Linked DNA regions of Homo sapiens. The main gene of each other region encodes a partner of the protein of the gene in region 2 in a complex. Each region holds a gene or a part of one and is shown on either strand. Other genes may lie near its edges. A codon is read from its position in the direction of its gene.

Region 1 (6,869 bases), on a different chromosome or scaffold from region 2:
AGCCCATTCCTAAGCCCCGCCCCAGGCCCTGCCCCCTCAAGCCTCACGTGTTTGATGAATAGCTGAGCCAGCCAATCAGGATCTTTCAGACACCGTTGTAGCTCTTGCAAGAAATAGCTGGAGGGGTTGGTAGAGAAGCAGCAGGTCAAATACATTTCACAACCCCCACCTCGCCCACTCCCAGCAGTTTCGAGCTGTCTGCCCTGGTAGTGTGCCCTACAAAACTTCTCCAAACATTCCTTAAGTCGCAATGGGCTGATGTTAGGATACAGGACAACCAGATGAGGGCCCCTCTCCAGCACCTAGCTGTCAGAGTTCCACCACTCACTCTCGGTGCCACTCATAGATTTGCTGGATATTCCCAAACACAATCCTGTCACGGCCTCGAAGACTCTCGGGGACCCCCTGAGCAGCCATGGTGGCCATATAACCCTGTGGGAAAGTTGAGGTTGGGTCATGAGCATGTGGTGGCCCTCTCCCCACCTTAATGGTGCTCCTGTACACAAATCCAGGGTGTGTTCCACCTCCCCCTCCCTGGTGGGAGCCGCCCTGCCCCCAGAGTAGGAAGGTCCAGGAGTGGGGAGGCTTGAGAGGTGGGACAGAGGAGCGCCCAGGCACCTCCTGAAAATAGCCCTGGGCAGATGGAAAAGCAGGCAGGAGGGGCTGGGAAGGGGTAAAGGGAGCTACCTCCACAATCTGCCCCAAGTCGTCCACGTACATTTTCTCTGTTTCTACCAGTTCACTCAGGACATACCTAGGATGAAAGCAGGAGGAGGCCCCCACTTCAGCGTCGGAGCTCATCCTTGGTTCAGCCCGTTCCTCCCTCCTCCCCTTTATCATCATAGCCAACCTTGGAGGAAATTCCATCTAAAATGTGAGGGACAGTCTTCTGGAAGTTGTGCAACTGCAGGGAAGGGCTGTGGACACTTACATACTCCTTTCCAGAGCCTTCTTCTTCTGTTCCTCCTCACTCTCAGGGGCTTGGGACAAAGTCTCCTCTTCAGGTGGCTGGAAGGAAAGAACATCCTAGGGTGAGCAAACGAATGCCCCTTGAGTGAAAGGAGCCTCCCCAGAGCCTGTCCTCACACCTGCGTCTTATCTCCAGGGCCCTCCAACAGTGTGGTCAGCAAGGTCAGTTCCGGCAGCTCCTCTCCTGTGGCTAGAGCTGGCTCCAACATCCAGTTCTGGGGGCCAGAAATCAAGTGTCAGAGGTCGGGGACAGTAGCTGGGTGGCCCCAACTTGCCCTCTCTGCCAGTGTCCTTCATAGATGTCCCACATGCTTTGGTGCCGTTCCCTGCTCACCTCATATGGTCCTGCCTGACCACTGTCTGCCTCAGTTTCCACACTGAGACAATGTTTGGAATGATCCAACCATCTCCTCAGGCCACTGACGGGCCCTGGGGGGCCTGGGGAACAGGGGCCAGAGCTGAGGCCAGAGCTGGGGCCAGAGGGGGCAGCCAGACCGGAGGCAGCAGAAGCCGATATACTCCCCTCACTGCCCGCAATGGAATAGGATTCTAATGGGAGGAAAAAGAGAGGAGGTGATAGACCTTGCCCCAGCTCCAGACTCAGGGTCCCCAGGGAACTCCCAGGGTCTTCTCTTCATGATGCTCAGCCTCTCTCTCCAAGGGCTCACTCTCTTGCCATCCTCATTTGAGTTGGCCAGGATAGAAAATTTCACCAGGGCACCCCTGGGAGAAAGCACAGTAAGGTAAACGCCTGGCTCTCCAGGCCTGGAACCCCCAGTTACATGTGGAGGTTCCCCATATCCTGAGCATAGCATAGATATGGGGGTGGGGGCAGCCATCTGGGCAGACATTGGAAGCTGGGGGTGGCCATCTGCTCTCCTACAACCCTCCCTCTTTCAATGGGTACAGACCATTCTCTGGGAAGAGGGGAGGATGAGCTGGGTCCATCTGCCACTCCCAGTCCCCTCCTCCACCAATTGCAGTAATCACTATAAAAAGAAAAGACTTCTGCAGCCCACCTCCCCAACACATGCGTAGACCCAATAGAGGAGGCCAGTGAGGAGGGTCCATCAGGGTTATCGTTGGCCTGTGCTCAGCGACAGAGAGCTGTGATTCCTTATAAAGCCCCTTGTAGAACCACCTCATTCTCATTCCTCCATTCTCCTGTCCCTCTTCAGAAGTAGATTCTTAGCAAAAGGTTTGAGGAAAATAATCGGTTCTAGGCCTAAGGGGATTGTGGGTGGGTTTTTCTCAAACCCATTTGACAAAGGGAAAGAGATGAGTTCCCTGCCCCTTCCCCTATTTCCTTAACTTGAACTAACAGAAATTTGGAGGCAGAAGGGACCTTAGGGATCACTTAAGAAACCACTTTCCTGGAAAACACATACAGTCTCCAACCCTAAATCCCAAGGGCCAGGGCAAACAGATGCCCTGAACCCCCAGCCCGCCCCCCACTCAACACTGGACCCTCTCGACCTGGCACTCACCACGTCCCCCCCGGGCGAAGCAGCAGCCGCATTTTGCCAGCACTTTTCGGATCACACGGGGACAGGCACAGCGACCCCCTTTGTGCCCCCCCCGCATGGCGCCCGGGCCCCCCCGCGCCCCCCACCCGGGCCGGCCATGCAGGGGGAATCACGGGGGGCGGGGCGGGGACGGCGCCGGGCGCACACCCCCCCTCCCTCCTACCCCGGTCCAGGCTGTGGGAGGGGGGGAGGGAGGGGACCGGGAGGAGGTGTCCAGGGGTAGGCGGAAGTCTAGTCTTGAGGAGGGCTGGGGGCTCTAGAGAGAGAGAGGCGCGGGGCCCGGCCGCCGGGCTGGGCGGGGAGGGTTTCCGGAACCCTGTCGGTGCGGGGGCCTAGGGTCCAGATGTCCAGTGGAAGGGGGAGGGATGGTAGGGGAGGCTGGGCCGGGATGCGGCAGCCGCTCCAGCTGTCTCCGGCCTCTGGTTAGGGGTGGCTCTAGGCCCGGGCCGGGGAGGAGGCGAGGGCCGACCCCCGAGCCACTGGCGCTGTGCGGGTCCCAGCGGAGCGGAGAGCTGAATAACAGGCCTGGCCGCGGGGCCGCCACGAGGCGGGGCCTCTGCGGCCCAGCTCCGCCCTCTCCATCGCGTTCCCCCTCCTGCCTGCGCCGGGTTCCCGCCCCGATCGCCCCTCCCCCAGACACCACCACGTTCCCACTCCACGTCCCCAGCGCTTTTTCCCCTCCCCAGCCCGTGCTCCCCTGCCCCGGGGTCCCCCTCCCTCTCGCATCCCGGGCTCTGCGGAGCGCTGGGGTCGGGGTTCAGCCTGTCTGCAGGGTCTGCCCAGGTCTCCCCTTGGCCTCTGCGATGAAGGAGGACTCAGTGGATGGGGCCTTGGCCTGTGCGAAGATGTTCTGGGTTTGGGGCTGTCCCCGGCCGAGTGGACAGAGGCCCCCTGGTACGGGGTGCGTGTATGGGGAGTCTTTTGTGGGTGAACACAACCCAGATGCCGCCCTCTCTCAGGACCCTTCTTTCCTCCAGGCCCCGGGACTCCAGCTAAGACTAATCGCCAATTAAGGCGAAGTCCTGGAGCCCGGGCTGGCGAGGGGCCAGGGGTGGGGCGCGGGGACACTCTGCCTGCGAGGGCTCGGGATCGACTGGGATGGGGGACACACATTGGACTCGAAGGCAAGAAGAGTGGAGGTCTCTGCGATTAAATGGGTCTCATGCAAATTAGATGCGAACTTTATGCTAATAAGAATAGAATATTTTTGAATTCGCCACTTGGCGCAGGATAGCAAACTGTGCCCCACCCCACCCCCAGCTTCTTACCGGGCTGCAGAGCCCCGGCGAGGACCTCATGTTCGCGATCCCTTCTGTGATCTCCCTCCGTACGTTCAGACTCTGGCTCGGTACCCACCAACCCTAGAGGGCTTCTCCTTGGGGGCTGCGGGGACAGAACCACTGTAAGGAACCTGCCCTCCTAGGCAGCCCTGACCTCCCCCTTCCCCTTCTCCTACCTGTCAAAACCCACATTGTTATAAAAGGCTCGCCCAGAACGGGGCTATGGCCCTCGTAATAGAATTCATGTATTCCTGCGACTGCCCCGCAGAACTCGTTTTCGGATAAGTTGAGTTGTGGGTGCAGCCCTCCTGAAGGCCCCGAAAGACCCCCGACCCCACCGCGAGCCCCCATTCTTACCCCCTCCTGCCCAGGGAGGGCGCATGCGCGCAGCATGCCCCCCATGACCCCCAGTATCCGGTCAGTGCGGCCAGGGGCGGGGCGGTCCGGGGGCTTCATACTGAACCCCCACCCTGCTCCAAGTTTCAGGGTCGAGGGGGCACTGAAGCTGGGGGGCTTTGAGGCCTGCGCGCGTCCGGGGAGTTGCTGCTGCGGAATCCGCCCCCTGCCCGGCTCCGCCCCCACTCCCACCCCAGCCAAACTTCGCAGAGTGGCTAGGGTTGTTTTCTCTACAACCATAGTTGAACAACAAAAAAACACCCTCTTAATACTAATTCCAACATCGAAGTGACCCAGGGTTTCTCAGTGTTACTACAGAGCCCGCTGGTGCATCCCGTTTCCCCAGGTCCTCAGGAGGCAGAGGGACTGGGAGTGCACGCAGGGATCACCCCATCATCCCCTCTCCCCTTTCCAGCAGGTCCCTCTCCCCACCCCACCCCCACCCAGTCCCTGGAAAAGAACGGGTGTGGCATAAAGAGTTGCATATTTTACTTTATTTTTATTAAATTAAAAGCTACAGTCTGGCAGCGATTCCAGAACAGGGTAAGGAGGTTCCTCACAGGGGTCAGAGAAGAGCGGAGAAAGACAGACTGACGGAGACTGAGACACAGGAGAGAAAGGACAAGGTTAAGGGAGAACTGTATCTGATGAACACACACAGCCGGCTCCATGGCGGGTGACGGGGAGCTCACATCAGCCCAATTTCTCCTCCCCGGCACCCGAAGTTCAGCGGTGGAGCAGTATGTGGGGGCGGTTAGGAATCAAGAGACCCTCCCTTCCCCACCCTAGGTCCTTTCTCGGCTTGGTCGTGGAGCACAGCACATACCAGAAAAAGCCAAGGGCAATGGAGGGGCAGGGAAACCGGGAGTATATGTACACGGGGAGGGGAGAACAGAGCCTTGGAGGTCGGCCTCTGCCAGAAGGGAGTGGCTCACACTGCATTGAAACACTTGGCCAGTGGGGGATGGGGGAAGGGATTGCCCCCTCCCTCTCGGAACTCCCTTCCCAGTCAGACAGGTCCCCTACAGGTGTGGTGTGGGGGGCAGGGGGCAGAGAGGAGAAAGAGGCTTCTGCTGGGTCCTAGTAGAGGCAGACAGCAGGGGCCTTGGCAAAGGCGATGTCCTTCAGTCATCTGTGATACCCTTCGCTCTCAGCTCCTCTTGCACCCGGGTCAGGTAGGTGGGGTCTGGGTACCCAAACCTGGGAGCAAAGAGAAATGAGGGTGAGGGTTGTTAGCTGTTTGAACTTGCTATTATCCCCATGCTCACCCTCATTCTAGGTGGCTCAGACACCTCCCCACCTCCCCTAAGGGAGGACACCTCCAAATCCAAGATAATTTAGCCCAGTTCTGCTTATTTTTGTAGGCTAAGCTGGGCACACCAGGACCAGGTTGAATGTAGGAGAAACTGAGATGGCTGAACAGTTTGGAAGTGGTTCTCTCCAGTTAGGAGGCTCCGTGAGCGAGGGGTTGGTGGGTCCCTCAGTGGAAATGGAACAAAGGGGAGGAGCCAAGGGAAAGGAAATGAAGAGGGGTCGCACAGCTGGGGTCCCCCTGTGCAGCTGGTCTTGTGGTGGATGTCGTTCCAGGTGATGACATTCGGTCTCCCTGTGGTCATGGACGTGCCGATAGTGAAGGTGAGACGCTGGTCAAACGCCTTGCGGAACAGGGTCAGCACCTTGTTGCCCTCAGGGCAGTCCGGGAGGTAGGCCACCCGTGTGGTGCCAGGATACCGAACTCCTGGGTTTGGGTGTTCAGCCTGGGAGGAAGGTGAAGCAGAGTGGGCAGTGAGCAGCCAGGCATCCTAAGGCCCAGATGCCAGAGGAGGGTCATCCAGGCTAGTCTCTGTCTGAGCACCCCCAGCTAATGCGAACGGGGCAGCAACAGGCTGACAGCTTTCCACAGAAGGAGAGATTATACGGCCTCGGCAGCAAGAGCCTGTTTCAGAGCATAATCCTTATGTGTTAAGAGATTTTTTCTGCTGTCTCAATCCCTCAAGTCTCCATTCAGCAACAAATGGATTCTCAGAAGTGATGGAAGTTAGCTGGTCCCTACACTCCAGACAACTCAGCAAAAATGTGAAGACAGAATAATCTATCTTTCAGCCTTCCCTTCACCTGAAAATACTCCTAATGTTTCTGCCACTGTCTAACTTGTTCCATTTTCCATCACTCTTCTGTGCAGCTTCTTCACCCCTCTGCAGCCAGAATTGCACATTACTCTTTGTCCAGCAGGAAGACACCTATAGGCCTTGACTACTCCTGTTTTTACAGAGTGATGCTCCTGGCTCTGTTGGGTTGGTCAGATCCCTTCCTATTGTGCCTCCCTTCCCCTAAGCCACCACCTCCACAGAATTTACCTCTGCCAAGATGTCAGCACAGTATTTGTGTTCATCAAGGAAATAATATGCAATTCCTTCCTCTCATATCTGATTTGCTTTTTTTTTTCCTAGCTCATATCTGATTTTCACGTGTGCCTTGGGATCACAGGGATGGAAAGGCTGGGCCTCACGGGGACCTCCTAGGTCCAGGGCACTGAGTAGGAGGGCACAGTGGAAGACAGCAAGACTGTCTCACATCTAACAAGCACACTCACCCTCACCCGGTTTTCCTAGGTCAGAGCTTGGGGAAAGCCAAAGGGTAAGGGCAGGCCATGGTCTTCTTACCCCCTGGACACCGGGCGGGAAGACGTACTGGATGA
Region 2 (7,020 bases):
CCGTCTCTACTAAAAATACAAAAAAAATTAGCTGGGTGTGGTGGCGGGCGCCTGTAGTCCCAGCTGCTCTGGAGGCTGAGGCAGGGGAATGGCGTGAACCCGAGAGGCGGAGCTTGCCGTGAGCTGAGATCGCGCCACTGTGCTCCAGCCAGGGCAACAGAGCGAGACTCCGTCTCAAAAAAAAAAAAAAAGGATCTTAAGTATTTTGTCTGACTCTGCCATTTAGTTTATTCCTTTGTTTACCTGCCCAATGGAACTGTTTGCTTGTAACTACACATTAATATAACTAAATTTTGAACTTAATGTTACATGCCTTGCTATACATGGGGCTCTTTGGGGACATGCTCATTTGTGGGATTAAAATTTCCAAGACGGTTTGAAGTTTGTAATTACTATAAAATCCCTCATCTTTAATCTGTGGAGCTGTAGTATTAAGTGAAGGCCTTGGTATGTTCATAATTACGATAGTCATGTGACTGAAAATCAGGCACTGAAGCTGCTCGTTCTGGGTGTTGGTCTCAGTTTATTGATGCTTCATCCAAATACATTTTTATAGCTAATAATAAAGAAAAACATCAAATACTCTTGCTAAATTGCAATCAGTATGCAGTTTATGCCAAACTTAGCTTGATTTTATTTTTTGAAGAGGATGAGTATGTATATTTAAGCATATGTGTGTGTGTGTATATGTATATATACTTGTGTATACGTATATACGTGTATACGTATATATATGTGTACATATACGTGTATACGTATATATATGTGTACATATACGTGTGTGTATGTGTGTGTGTATATATATATATTTTTTTTTTTTTCTCTTTTGAGACTGAGTCTCACTCTGTCGTCCGGGCCAGAGTGCAGTAGCGCCATCTCGGCTCACTGCAACCGCCGCCTCCTAGTTCAAGTGATTCTTGTGCCTCGGCCTCTGGAGTAGTTGGGAGTACCAGCATGCGCCACTGTGCTCAGCTAATTTTTGTATTTTTAGTAGAGACGGGGTTTCACCATGTTGGTCAGGCTGTTCTCGAACTCCTGGCCTTGTGATCTGCCCCCCTTGGCCTCTGAAAGTGTTGAGATTGCAGGTGAGAGCCACTATGTCTGGCCATATTTAAGCATATTTATGATAGTATCTTAAATTTAAGTGAAGGGAAAGAGGAAAACATACACAGCCAATGAAGTAAGTTTGAAGTGGAGTGAAAGGAAAAGTTGGAGGTAAAAAGAGGTTAGAGAGGTGGGCAGGGGCCAAATCATATAGGGCCTTTAGGACATGGGAAATTCTTTGGATTTGTTCTGAGATTAGAAGTCATTTAGATATTCTTTAGAAAGGGAATGACATGATCTGATATTAAAAAAAAAACTAGAATCACTGTGAGTAGGAGTAGATCTAATTCCATTCTGACTAAATAGTAAACTAATATGATAATTTGGACAAATATAAAAAGGAATTCCTGGCTGGGAGCAGTGGCTGATGCCTGTAATCCCAGCACTTTGGAAGTGCTGGGCAGGTGGATCACTTGAGGTCAGGAGTTTGAGACCAGCCTGGCCACATGGTGAAACCCTGTCTCTACTAAAAATACAAAACATTAGCTGGGCGTGGCAGCAGGCGCCTATAATCCCGGCTATTCAGGAGGCTGAGATAGGAGAATCACTTTAACCTGGGAGGCGGAGGTTGCTGTGAGCAGAGATCGAGCCATTGCACTCCAGCCTGGGAGACGGTGCAAGACTCAAAAAAAAAAAAAAAAAAAAAAAAACGGAAAGGATTTCATAATATTAATTTCCTTGACTTAGTGACTTCTGCCTATTTTATTTGAAGTCATTGGTTCTTCTCTTCTCTTCTCTTGAGACAGGGTCTCACTGTCACCCAGGCTGGAGTGCAGTGAGTGATCTTTGTTCACTTCAACCTTTGTTTCCCAGGTTCAAGCGATTCTCGTGCCTCAGTCTCTAGAGTAGCTGGGACTACAGGTGTGTGTGTGTGACCATGCCCGACTAATTTTTGTATTTTTAGTAAAGACGGGATCTCACCATGTTGGCCAGGATGGCCTTGATCTCTTGACCTCGTGACCCCGTGACCCACCCACCTTGGCCTCCCAAGGTGTTGGGATTACAAGCATGAGCCACTAAGGATTTGTTTTTAAAATTTTTTTGCTTTATTTTTTTCTTCTCTTTTTTTGTACTAGAGATGGTGTCTTGCTATGTTGCCCAGACAGATCTTGTACTCCTGGGCTCAAGTTGTCCTCCTGCCTCAGCCTCCCAAAGTGCTGGGATTAAAGATGTGAGTCAAGCGATTCTCGTGCCTCAACCTACCCACTAGCTCGATTACAGGTGCCATCCACCACCTGCCCACCACCCTTGGCTAATTTTTGTATTTTGTATTTTAGTAGAGACAAGAATTTTACCATGTCGGCCAGGCTGGTCTCAAATTCCTGACCTCAGGCAATCCACCCGCCTCAGCTTCCTGCTGGGATTACGGGCGTGAGCTACCCTGGCCAAGATTTTTAATTTCTGAAGCTTATAGCTGCTCTAAAGCACAAGGATTCAGTCCCATGATTTAAAAAAGTTGCTTGTTTTGACTTCAAGTATATGGTTGAGCATTCTAACTTTTGTTATGTATACATTTTTATTTTACTGTATTCTTCTAGCCATTGTATCCTAGTCTGTATGTTGCAGATGAGTTGTGATTCTCTGGTGTCTCTTCCATGGACCTAGAGATCATATGCTCTACTACTGGGATTTTTTTTTGTAACTTTGTTTGGGATATAGGCTTTGAGAGGTTAAGGAAGTAAATTTAAGATGGATATTTAATGTTGTAACACTTTGTTAATGCTTTTTTCTACAAGATAATTTTATTATGTGATATGGCAGCTTTGTTGGAAATACCTGTTTTTTTGTGTGTGTGGAAAATTTCTTTTCTGGATGAAATCTCTTGTTTAACTTTTCCAGTTATTCATAATGAAGCTCTGTTTATCTTTTGAAGATCTTAAGTTCAGAAACAGAAGGCAGGCTGCGTATGGTGGCTCATGCCAGTTATCCCAGCACTTTGGGAGGCCGAGGTGGGTGGGTCACCTGAGGTCAGGAGTTCGAAACCAGTCTGACCAACATGGTGAAACCCCATCTCTACTAAAAATACAAAAATCAGCCGAGTGTATTAGTGAGTGCCTGTAATCCCAGCTACTCGGAAGGCTGAAGCAGGAGAATCCCTCGAACTTGAGAGGCGCAGGTTGCAGTGAGCCAAGATTGCTGCACTCCAGCCCGGGCAACAGAGCGAAACTCCGTCTCAAACATACACACAAAAAAAAGAAGGAAAGAAAAGGCAGTAGAGTATCTTATTTAAGAGCATGGATTCTGGAGAGAAACTGACAGTTAAATACTAGCTCTGACACTTGATGGCTTGAGACCCTTGGCAGTAGTATGTCTCCTTTGTAATTCAGTTTTTTTCTTCTGTAGAAAGGGAATGGTAAGGAAGCGCCATGAGATTTCAGTGAGAGAGAAGCACTTACCTCAAGTGCCAGACATGTAGCCCTTCAACTAACTTATTTTATTTATTTATTTTTTGAGATGGAGTTTTGCTCTTGTTGCCCAGGCTGGAGTGCAATGGCGTGATCCCAGCTCACTGCAACCTCCACCTCCTGGATTCAAGTGATTCTCCTGCCTCAGCCTCCCCATTAGTTGGGGTTTACAGGCATGTCACCATGCCCAGCTAATTTTTTTTTTTTTTTTTTTTTTTTTGAGACACAGTCTCGCTCTGTCACCCAGGCTGGAGTGCAGTGGCGCGATCTCGGCTCACTGCAACCTCCGCCCTCCGAGTTCAAGCAGTTCTCCTTCCTCAGCCTCCTGAGTAGCTGAGACTACAGGTGCCCGCCACCACGCCCGGCTAGGTGTTTTTTTTTTTTGTATTTTTAGTAGAGACAGGGTTTTACCGTGTTAGCCAGGATGGTCCCGATCTCCTGACCTCAGGTGATCTGCCTGCCTCCGCCTCCCAAAGTGTTGGGATTATAGGTGTGAGCCACCGCGCCTGGCCTACTTTTTTTATTATTTTTTTTTTTGGAGACAAGAGTCTCGCTCTGTCGCCCAGGCTGGAGTGCAGTGGCGTGATCTCGGCTCACTGCAAACTCTGCCTCCCGGGTTCATGCGGTTCTCCTGCCTTAGCCTCCCAGGTAAACTGGGACTACAGGTGCATGCTGCCACGCCTGGCTAATTTTTTTTTTTTTTTGTATTTTAGTAGAGACGGGGTTTAACCATGTTGCCCAGGCTGGTCTCCATCTCCTGAGCTCAGGCAATCTGCCTGCCTTGGCCTCCCAAAGTGCTAGGATTACAGCCGTGAGCCACCGTGCCTGGCCTTCTGGCCTTTTTTTTTTTTTTTTTTTTTTTTTTTGAGACGGAGTCTTGCTCTGTTGTCTAAGCTGGAGTGTAGTGGCACAATCTCGGCTCACTGCAATCTCTGCCTACCAGGGTGCAAGCGATTCTCCTGCCTCAGCCTCCCAAGTAGCTGGGACTACAGGTGCGTGCCACCATGCCCGGCTAATTTTGTGTGTGTGTGTGTGTGTGTGTGTTTTACTAGAGACGGGGTTTTACTTTGTTGGCCAGGCTGGTCTTGAACTCCTGACCTTGTGATCCACCTGCCTTGGCTTCCCAAAGTACTGGGATTACGGGTGTGAGCCACTGCGCCTGGCTTTTTTTTGGAGAGATAAGGTCTTGTTTTGTCATCTAGGCTGGAGTGCAGTGGCACAGTCATAGCTCATGGTGGCCTCCAACTTTTGGTGTCAAGGTATCCTTACGCCTCGTCCTCCCTAGTAGCTGGGACTACAGGTGTATGTGCCACTGCGCCCAGCTAATATTTTTACATTTTGTAGAGATGGAGTCTTGCTGTCTTGCCCAGGTTGGGTCTCAGACTCCTGGGCTCAAACAGTCCTCCCACCTCAGACTCCCAAAGTGCTGCAAGTACGGGCATGAGCCACTGAGTCCAGCTATCTTCAACTTTCACTATTCAGGTTACAGTTTGTAGTACCTTTTTTCGGGGGTGGTGGGAGGGTAGTGGGAGTAGCACCCTAAGATTTCTTGGAATAAAACAGGGCTTACTACTTGGTTCCTGGTACTTAAGAACAGTGGTTCCTAGACTCCACTGTTCCCAAACTTGGAATCCAGTTCCCCAAATTGGAATCACCTGAGGTTTAATTACCTTCATGGAGGTTTAATTTGCATACAATAAAATGCACATACTTTAAATGATAGTTTGATAATTTTTTTGTTCTTATTTTTTTTAGACATAGGGCCTTGTTCTGTCACCCAGCTGAAGTGCAGTGTCGGAATCATGGCTTACTACATCCTCGACCTCCTAGGCCCAAGAATTCTCTGCTTTAGCCTCCCGAGTAGCTGGGACTGCAGGTGTGCACCACCACGCCTGGCTACATTTTTATTTTGTAATTTTTTTTTTTGTAGAGAGAGGGGTCTCACTATGTGCTCAGACTGGTCTTGAACTCCTGGCCTTAAGTGATTCTCTCGTCTCAACCTCACAAAGCCCTGGGATTATAGGCATGAGCCACCACAAACCGCCAGTTTGATAAATTTTGATGAATGTGTATACCCAAGTAATTGCCACTCAGTCGAGTTAAAGAGCATTTCCTCAAGGCTTTAAATTTTTATTTTTATTTTTGAGACGGAGTCTTATTCTGTCATCTAGGAGTGCAGTGCCGCAATCTTGGCTCACTGCAGCCTCTGCCTCCCGGGTTCAAGTGATTCCCCTGCCTCAGCCTCCTGAGTAGCTGGGACTACAGGTGCGTGCCACCACACCCAGCTAACTTTTTGTATTTTTAGTAGAGATGGGGTTTCACTCTGTTAGCCAGGATGGTCTCGATCTGATCTTGTGATCCGCCTGCCTCTGCTTCCCAAAGTGTTGGGATTACAGGCGTGAGCCACCGCGCTCGGCGGGTTTCTTTTTTTTTTTTTTTATGAGATGGAATCTCGCTCTGTTGCCCAGGCTGCAGTGCAGTGGCACGATCTCAACTCACTGCAACCTCCGCCTCTCGGGTTCAAGCGATTCTTCTGCTTCAGCCTCCCGAGTAGCTGGAACTACAGGCACCCGCCACCACGCCCGGCTAATTTTTTGTGTTTTTAGTGGATACGGGGTTTCGCCATGTTGGCCAGGCTGGTCTCAAAGGCCTGACCTTGTGATCCTCCTGCCTCGGTCTCCCAAAGTGCTGGAATTACAGGTGTGAGCCACTGCTCCTGGCCTAAAGTTTTTTAGACTAGTTTTTTTGTTCATTCGTTTTATTTGCTTGGCTTCCTAGAATATGACAAGTTTTGGTTTGTTTTTGAGACAGAGTCTTGATCTGTTTCCCAGGCTGGAGTGCAGTGGTGCTATCGTGGCTCACTGCAGCCTCTAACTCTTGTGCCCAAGTAATACTCCTGCCTCAGCCTCATGAGCATCTGGGACTACAGGCAAGCACCACCATACCTAGTTAATTAATTTAATTTTTATAGAGATGACGTTTTGCCATGTTGTCCAGGCTGGTCTCTAACTCCTGAGCTCTGGCCTCGCAAAGTGGTGGGATTATAGGTGTGAACCACTGCACCCGGCCTAGTTTTTTATTTTAAGAAATATATATACTTGGTAAAAGTAAACTCCTGCAATAAGGTTTACAATAAGCATATATAAATTCTTAGCCAGCTCACTGGGAGGTACCTAATGGTTCATTTTTCTTTGTCAGTTTTACTAGATACGCATTGTCTTAGAGGCAATGTAAGTTTGGAATTAGGCCAAACAAAGTCAAATCCTGATTCTGTGCATCCATTGAAGGTTAACCTTATAATATTTACATTTTGAGATAAATGATTTCATGCTCTTATTTAGGAAACTTGACGGTATGTTACCTCAGGGATTGTTCCTTGCCTGTCTTTCCCCAAAGAACTTGAGTTTGAAGTGATTTTCACTTGGCAGTAAATTGAAGGTTTTCTTCATTGCTTACCACCATGTGCCTTATTCCTGCTGCTCTTGATCTCCAAGTGCCCTTACTGCTACAG
Region 3 (7,020 bases), on a different chromosome or scaffold from region 2:
AGGTCTTGCAAGGAAGCCAAGCTCACAGACCAGTAAGCCACAGGGCAGGGCTAGAAGGAAGACCACCTGCACCCAGTCCCCAGCATTTTCTGCTCCATTTTTATAGCTTCCTAGCCCTTTATTAACTTGAGTTTCTCTATAATCATGATTTGTGCAATAAAGCAGCCACAGAGATGCTCTTATAGTGTTATTCCTGATAAAGGCAGAAACAAACCCAAGCGACCAGCAATAAGAGAACAGTTCATTTGAATATGGTATGTTTACATGCAGCGACAATATTACCAAAGAATATTTAAAAGTACAGAACGACGTTCACAAAATACTGCTAAGTAGGGAAAAAAAAGCTTGGTTTTTTGTTTGTTTGTTTGTTTGTTTATTTTGAGACAGGATCTCACTCTGTCACCCAGGCTGGAGTGCAGTGGCATGATCTCGGCTCACTGAAGCCTCGACCTCCCCAGGCTCAGGTGATCCTCCCACCTCGCCTCCCAAGTAGCTGGGACTACAGGCTCGCACCACCATGCCTAGCTAATTTTCATTTTTATTATTTTTTTTTGGTAGAGACGGGGTTTCGCCATATTGCCCAGGCTAGTCTCAAACTCCTGGCTTCAAGCAATCCGCCCACCTTGGCTCCCCAAAATGCTAGAATTACAGGCATAAGCCACCATGCCTGACCGAAAAAAAAGAGCTTTCAAAAGTTCATATAACAACCATGAGTAGTAAAAGCTGACATAATGTTTACTCTGTGCCAAGCCATTCTAAAATTAACCTCTTTGGTCCTCCCAAGAACCCCATGGGATATCCATGATCCTTATCCCCAGGTTACAAATGAAGAAGCTGAGACCCAGAGAGGTGGAGCCACTTGTCCTGAGACACACAGCATGTAAGTTACAGAGCCAGGATCCCAACCCAGTCCTACCTGCCCCAAAAGTCCATCTTCCCACAAGTCTTGCTCATTTCCTCACATGGCAGACACTGTTCTGGGCACTTAGTTGGCACCTTCTCTTGCATTCAGCCAACAGACCCACCACGTTGGGTCCTAGAGGCTGGGGCTGTCTCCCCCAGCCCAGCCCCAGGGCCCTGTCCCTACTCCCAGCCCTGCCCCTCCTTCCTCACACCCCATGCCCCCTCCTGGAGCCCACCTCAATCTTGCTGTTGTACACCAGGATCTCCAGCACGGAGGCCTCTTCCCCACACGTGTCCAGGGAGGAGAGGTCATAAAGCGAGGAATACACTGGCCCATAGGCCCAGTCCTTGAACTTGCGGGACAGGTGCCGTGTGTCCTCATCCGTCACCTCCCGCCGGATGATGTGCTGAAAGATCTGCACAGGGGGCCAGGAGGGTCAGGGGGCTCACACTGGAAAGACCCCCAGGGCTGGGCCCAGCTCAGCACATGACGCCTCCCCAGAAAACAGCTAAGCACCGGCTGCTGGAGGACCCTTTCCTCATCTTGTTTAATTCTTGCTCTTATTATCTTGGTTTACAGATAAAGAATGGAGGCTGGGAAAAACGAAGGGTGTTCCAGAAGCCACTTAACCAGTCAGCTGGAGCCAGACAGAACCTGGATGAGCCTTCAACATCTTAATTGTAATGAATATCTTCTTCATGCCGTTAAAATAGCAATGAATCCATCTTAATGACATGTGAATTATAATACTGACGATCACATGCGGTCCTTCCTGTTACCACTCCTCCTTCCCTGGCTTACACACAGGGAAGCGGAGGCACAGAGAGGGGTGGGAATTGCCCAAGGTCAGGCAATGTTAGGATTTTGGGGTTTTTGTTTTGAGACAGAGTCTCTCTCTGTCACCCAGGCTGGAGTGCAGTGGCGCGATCTCAGCACACTGCAACCCTCTCCTCCTAGGTTCAAGCAATTCTCCTGCCTCAGCCTCCTGAGTAGCTGGGATTACAGGTGCCCACTATCACACCCAGCTAATATTTTTGTATTTTTAGTAGAGACGGGGTTTCACCATGTTGGCCAGGCTGGTCTTGAACTCCTGACCTCAGGTGATCCGCCCACCTCGGCCTCCCAAAGTGCTGGGATTACAGGCATGAGCCACTGTGCACAGCCAGGATTTTGGGGTTTTTTGAGACAGGGTCTGGCTCTGTTGCCCAGGCTGGAGTGCAATGGCACTATCACAGCTCATTGCAGCCTCAACCTCCTGGGCTCAAGTGCTCCTCCCACCTCAGCCTCCCAAAGTGCTAGGATTACAGACACGAGCCACTGAGCCTAGCCAAAGCCAGGATTTAAACTGGAGCCTTTCTACTGCCTCAGGGCCATGGTATAATTGCAATTTTAGTAATTTTTGCTACATTTTTTTTTATTTTGGTTTTTATTTATTTGGGATCTCAAATAATCCAGGCTGGACTTAAACGATCCTCTCACCTCAGCCTCCCAACTAGCTGGCATTACAGACATGTAAGTGACACTTACTGCTTCTCCCAGGCTCCTTCCTAAGAGCCTTATGTGGATCACCGCATTTGTCACAACACCACACCAGAGGACACTCTTATATCCCCATTTTACAGACAAGGAAACTGAGGCACAGAAAAGGGAAATGAGATGTCTGAGGTCACACACTGGGAAGTGGTAGCGCCAGGGCTTGGACAGGTGCTCCTGCCTCTAGCATACTCCAGACTTGGTTCCCAATCCAGCGATGGTGCCCCCCAGAGGACAATTCAGCAATGTTCTGGAGATATTTTTGGTGGTCACAAGTGTAAGGGGAGGTGTTCCTGGCATCTGGTGGGTAGAGGCCCGGGATGCAGATCAATGTCTGGCAATAGCACAAGACGGTCCCCACCACAAAGAGCCTGCCGCCCAAAATAATCATGCTGAAGTTGAGAAACCCTTCTCCAGGCCCCATGCTGCGCGGCCCAGAAAAGGGAAGGAACTGGGGCAGGGCCATTCAACAGGTTTGAGGCTGGGAGCACCGCTGGGCTAGGGCCCGGGGACTCAGTTTCTTATCAGTGGCTCATCCTGGCTGGTGGGGGTGGAGTGGTGAACATCCAGTAGGGTGACATGAGGCGAGAGGCTCGGGGATGAAGCTAAGGAGCTTGGCTGGACACTAGGGAGCCATAGCAGGTTCTTGAGCTGGGACATCTGCACACTGGGGTTGGCATGTTGGGAGGTGCATGCACGTATTAATAATGAATACCAGCAGCAGACCCTCGTGTGTGTGTGCAGAGGGGTACGAGTAGGTGGATCAGCTGTGCCCCCAGCCGCACACTCACCCCAATCTTGCCCGTCTTGGCAGCCATCATGAGGGGCGAGAGGCCGTCGTTGTTGAGCACGGCCTCCAGGTTGCTGTCGGGGAAGAGGCGGGCACACTTGAGCAGCAGCAGGTCGTACATCTTGGTAACAAACTTGGTGTTCTCACGGGTGTTGTCAGCAATGGCCACCAGCGCATGCAGCACTGTGTTGCCTCGCGAGTCCTGGCGCCGCATGTCCGCCTTCTTGTGGGGGTTCTCCGTCAGGTAGTTGACAATGTGGGGCTGGTTGGTGCAGGCAGCCAGCGACAGGGGCAGCTCCCCTGCGGGCCAGGGTGAAGGGTGGGAGGTCAGCGAAGGGGGCCCAGGGTGGGACTCTGCCTGCAGACACTCGGGGGACGGACACCGTGGCGCTCTGAGGATAATGACGGAGACAGCACCAGCAGTGGATATGAACTGCACGTTTCTCTGGGTGATGCCAGGGAGATGGGGTGTGGCTAGTTAAGGGCACAGCCACGCGATTTGGAGGCTGTGAGGGACTGGACACATCCAATGATGGAATTCTTTTTTTTTTTTTTTTTGAGACAAAGTCTCACTCTGTCGCCTAGGCTGGAGTGCAGTGGCACAATCTCGGCTCATTGCAACCTCCACCTCCCGGGTGCAAGCAGTTCTTGTGCCTCAGCCGAGTAGCTGGGATTACAGGCGCACGCCACCACACCTGGCTAATTTTTGTATTTTTAGTAGAGGCAGGATTTCGCCATGTTGGCCAGGCTGGTCTCAAACTCCTGACCTCAAGTGATCCGCCGACCTCGGCCTCCCAAAGTGCTGGGATTACAGGCGTGAGCCACCGCGCCCAGCTGATGATGGAATTCTTTGTGTGACTTTGTCCCTGAGCTGCACATAATGAATGCCTTTAAGCAGGGGCAAAATTCAAAATATTTCATGAGTCCAGTGATGACAACGGCAGTGGTGGGCTTTGGGCCTGGTGATGGGGCTGTTGGTCCCAGCATAAACCAGATTAAAGCACACAGACAATACAGAGCTGGGCGCTGACATCACAGCCCAAGGGCCTCTCGTGATCCCCACTGCACAGCTGGGGAAGGTGAGGCTCAGGGAAGTGAGGTCACATGCCTGGAAAGTGCAGAGTGAGGATTTGGCTTTTTTTTTGTTCTTTTCTTTTTGCTTTTTAAAGACGGGGTCTTGCTCTATTTTCCAGGCTGGAGTGCAGTGGTGCAATCATGGCTTACTGCAGCCTCGAACTCCTAGGTTCAAGTGATCCTCCAGCCTCGGCCTCCCAAGCAGCTGGGACTTCAAGCACATGCCACCATGCCATCTAACTTATTTATTTATTTATTTATTTATTTATTTTTTGAGACAGAGTCTCACTCTGTCACCCAAGCTGGAGTGCAATGGGGAAATCTCGGCTCATTGCAACCTCTGTCCCCCAGGTTCAAGCAATTCTCCTGCCTCAGCCTCCCAAGTAGCTGGGATTACAGGCACCCACCACCATGCCCGGCTAATTTTTGTTATTTTTGTAGAGATGGGTTTCACCATCTTGTTGGCCAGGCTGGTCTTGAACTCTTGACCTCAGGTGATCCACCTGCCTCATCCTCCCAAAGTGCTGGGATTACAGGCATGAGCCACCGTGCCCAGCCATTTTTTAAATGTTTAAAAGAGACAGGGTATTGCTATGTTGCCTAGGCTGGTCTCAAACTCCTGCCCTCAAGCGATCCTCCTGCCTTGACCTCCCAAAGTGCTGGGATGACAGGTGTGAGACACCGTGCCTGGCTGGAGTGAGGATCTGAATCCAGGTCCATGGTACTCCCCATGGCACTTACACCTCAGAGGCAACGGCCCTGTGACCAAGACCAACGTGCAGCCTGTGGTCCAGAGTGCTGCCTGCGCTCATGGCCAGAGTGGCCCTGGGTGTCTGGGTGATGGTCAGGGCTGCAGACACCAACCAGTATCATGCTATCTCCCGCCATGCTTCTCCAGCATGCTGTCAGCCCCCACCAGGCCCCTCCTTACCAAAGTAGAAGTAGCCCCCCTCATCCTTGGGCTGGAAGAAGCGCCCACGGGCCTGGGCGTGGACATCAGCTCCCTGGGCCACGAGAAGTTCCACGTAGTGTTTGCAGCGACGCTCAATGGCGATGTGCAGGGCTGTCTGACCTGGGGGCAGGGGACGGTCATCCAGGGTCCTGGCGGAGCAGAGACCTAGCCAGGCTTGCTGGGGGTGGGGGTAGGGTGCAGGACGTAGAAATTGGGGGGTGGGGGATGCAGGCAGAGTCCTGCCCAGCGACACCCAAGGGCAGCAAATAGGTCCTTGGATATTCCCTGGGATCCATCGCAGAAGCAGAATCTCAAGCCTGAAGGATACCTAGTTTGTGGAATCCTGAATGTGAGAAGTTTTTAGATTCATAAGATGCTTTAAAAATCCTAGAGGAGGCCAGGCGCAGGCTCACGCCTGTAATCCCAGCAATTTGGGAGACCAAGGAGGGAGATCACCTGAGCCCAGGCGTTTGAGGCAAGCCTGGGCAACACAGTGAGATCCCATCTCTATAGAAATGCTAAAAATTAGCTGGGCCTGGTGACTTACACCTGTGGTCCCAGCTACTCCAGAGGCTGAGGCAGGAGGATTGCTGAAGCCTAGCAGTTCAGTACCAGCCTGGGCAACTGATATGGTTTGGCTCTGTGTCCACACCTAAATCTCACCTTGAATTGTAGTTCCCATAATCCCCATGTATCATGGGAGGGACCCTGTGAAAGGTAATTTAATCATGGGGGCAGTTACCCTCATGCTGTTTTCATGATAGTGAGTGAGTCCTCAAGAGATCTGATGATTCTATAAGGGGCTTTTCCCCCTTTTGCTTGGCACTTCTTCTTCCTACCACCATGTGAAGAAGGACATGTTTGCTTCCCCTTCCACAATGATTGTAAGTTTCCTGATGCCTCCCCAGCCCTGCGGAACTGTGAGTCAATTAAGCCTCTTTCCTTTATAAATTATCCAGTCTTGGGCAGTTCTTTATAGCAGCATGAGAACGGGCTAATACAACAACATAGTGAGACCCTGTCTCTACAGAAATTTTAAAAATTAGCCTGGCATGGTGGTCCATGCCGGTGGTCCCAGCTACTTGGGAGGGTGAGGTGGGAGACTCCCTTGAGCCCAGGAAGTCAAGGCTGCAGTGAGCCATGATCACACCACTGCACTCCAGCTTGGGTAACAGAGCAAGACCTTGTCTCAAAAAAAAGAAAACTCCTAGAGGAAACAACAGTACCTTGGCCTCCCAGAATTTTGGACTCAAGATATAATATTCATGGATTTTGAATCTTAATATCCAGGCATCTGAAGGTCAACTCTGATTTACAGAATCTCAACTGGGGATTGGCCCAGTTCTTGGCCCCCTGCTGCCTTTGCCTCTTAGAACTTGTGAACTCAGGACTTATTATCATAGAGCCTTAGAGTATCCGCCACCACAGCATCTTAGGGCCAGATCCCGAGTTCATGATCACTAGACTCGCTGCATCTCAGAATCTTGGAATCTTTTTTTTTTTTTTTTTGAGACAGGGTCTCACTCTGTCACCCAGGCTGGAGTGCAGTGGCACAATCATAGCTCACTGAAGCCTTGACCCTCTGAGCTCAAGTGATCTTCCCACCCCAGCCTCCCAAGTAGCTGGGACTACAGGTGTGCACCAACAAGCCTGGCTTTTTTTGCATCTTTTTTTTTTTTTTGAGATGAGTCTTGCTCTTGTTGCCCAAGCTGGAGTGCAATGGCGCGATATTGGCTCACTGCAACCTCCACCTCCCAGGTTCAAGCG

What was found. The genes of interacting proteins can lie anywhere in the genome.
Region 1: the proteins of RHOA (region 2) and ARHGEF25 are in contact, whole or in part, in a crystal structure (PDB 2RGN), measured with the Homo sapiens proteins. Residues at the interface, in NP_001300870.1 of Homo sapiens: Arg5, Tyr34, Pro36, Thr37, Val38, Glu40, Asn41, Val43, Asp45, Glu54, Trp58, Asp59, Ala61, Gly62, Gln63, Asp65, Tyr66, Asp67, Arg68, Leu69, Leu72, Pro75, Asp76; in NP_891992.3 of Homo sapiens: Tyr163 (codon at 753), Val164 (codon at 750), Glu167 (codon at 741), Thr171 (codon at 729), Met174 (codon at 720), Tyr175 (codon at 717), Asp178 (codon at 708), Cys253, Lys256, Pro257, Glu260, Ser264, Arg275, Arg281, Leu282, Asn285, Asp286, Ile289, Lys290, Val292, Gln293, Arg294, Met296, Lys297, Gln299, Leu300, Leu301, Cys327, Pro330, Lys331.
Region 3: the proteins of RHOA (region 2) and TRPV4 are in contact, whole or in part, in a cryo-EM structure (PDB 9IQX), measured with the Homo sapiens proteins. Residues at the interface, in NP_001300870.1 of Homo sapiens: Met1, Ala2, Ala3, Arg5, Tyr34, Pro36, Val38, Phe39, Glu40, Asn41, Tyr42, Val43, Glu54, Trp58, Glu64, Asp65, Arg68, Leu69, Leu72, Pro75, Asp76; in NP_067638.3 of Homo sapiens: Lys177, Arg179, Thr181, Glu183, Glu184, Arg186, Pro188, Arg224, Glu225, Asn228, Ser229, Pro230, Arg232, Arg237, Asp263 (codon at 5,299), His265 (codon at 5,293), Ala266 (codon at 5,290), Gln267 (codon at 5,287), Arg269 (codon at 5,281), Asp313 (codon at 3,444), Arg315 (codon at 3,438), Arg316 (codon at 3,435).

The regions. Positions count from the first base shown.
Region 1 is NC_000012.12:57,607,579-57,614,447, reverse strand, and holds the start of ARHGEF25 (rho guanine nucleotide exchange factor 25), read right to left. Parts: upstream 3,014-6,869; 5' UTR 2,554-3,013; coding exon 2,457-2,553; intron 1,693-2,456; exon of another isoform or gene 1,552-1,692; intron 1,519-1,551; coding exon 1,304-1,518; intron 1,185-1,303; coding exon 1,089-1,184; intron 1,009-1,088; coding exon 932-1,008; intron 755-931; coding exon 688-754; intron 433-687; coding exon 329-432; intron 118-328; coding exon 48-117; intron 1-47. Other genes in the region: probable E3 ubiquitin-protein ligase DTX3, read right to left, coding at 5,296-5,371, 5,711-5,928, 6,835-6,869. UniProt on the Homo sapiens protein: May play a role in actin cytoskeleton reorganization in different tissues since its activation induces formation of actin stress fibers. It works as a guanine nucleotide exchange factor for Rho family of small GTPases.
Region 2 is NC_000003.12:49,401,967-49,408,986, reverse strand, and holds part of RHOA (transforming protein RhoA isoform 1 precursor), read left to right. Parts: intron 1-2,180; exon of another isoform or gene 2,181-2,275; intron 2,276-7,020. UniProt on the Homo sapiens protein: Small GTPase which cycles between an active GTP-bound and an inactive GDP-bound state.
Region 3 is NC_000012.12:109,795,386-109,802,405, forward strand, and holds part of TRPV4 (transient receptor potential cation channel subfamily V member 4), read right to left. Parts: intron 5,374-7,020; coding exon 5,233-5,373; intron 3,528-5,232; coding exon 3,229-3,527; intron 1,320-3,228; coding exon 1,140-1,319; intron 1-1,139. UniProt on the Homo sapiens protein: Non-selective calcium permeant cation channel involved in osmotic sensitivity and mechanosensitivity. Activation by exposure to hypotonicity within the physiological range exhibits an outward rectification.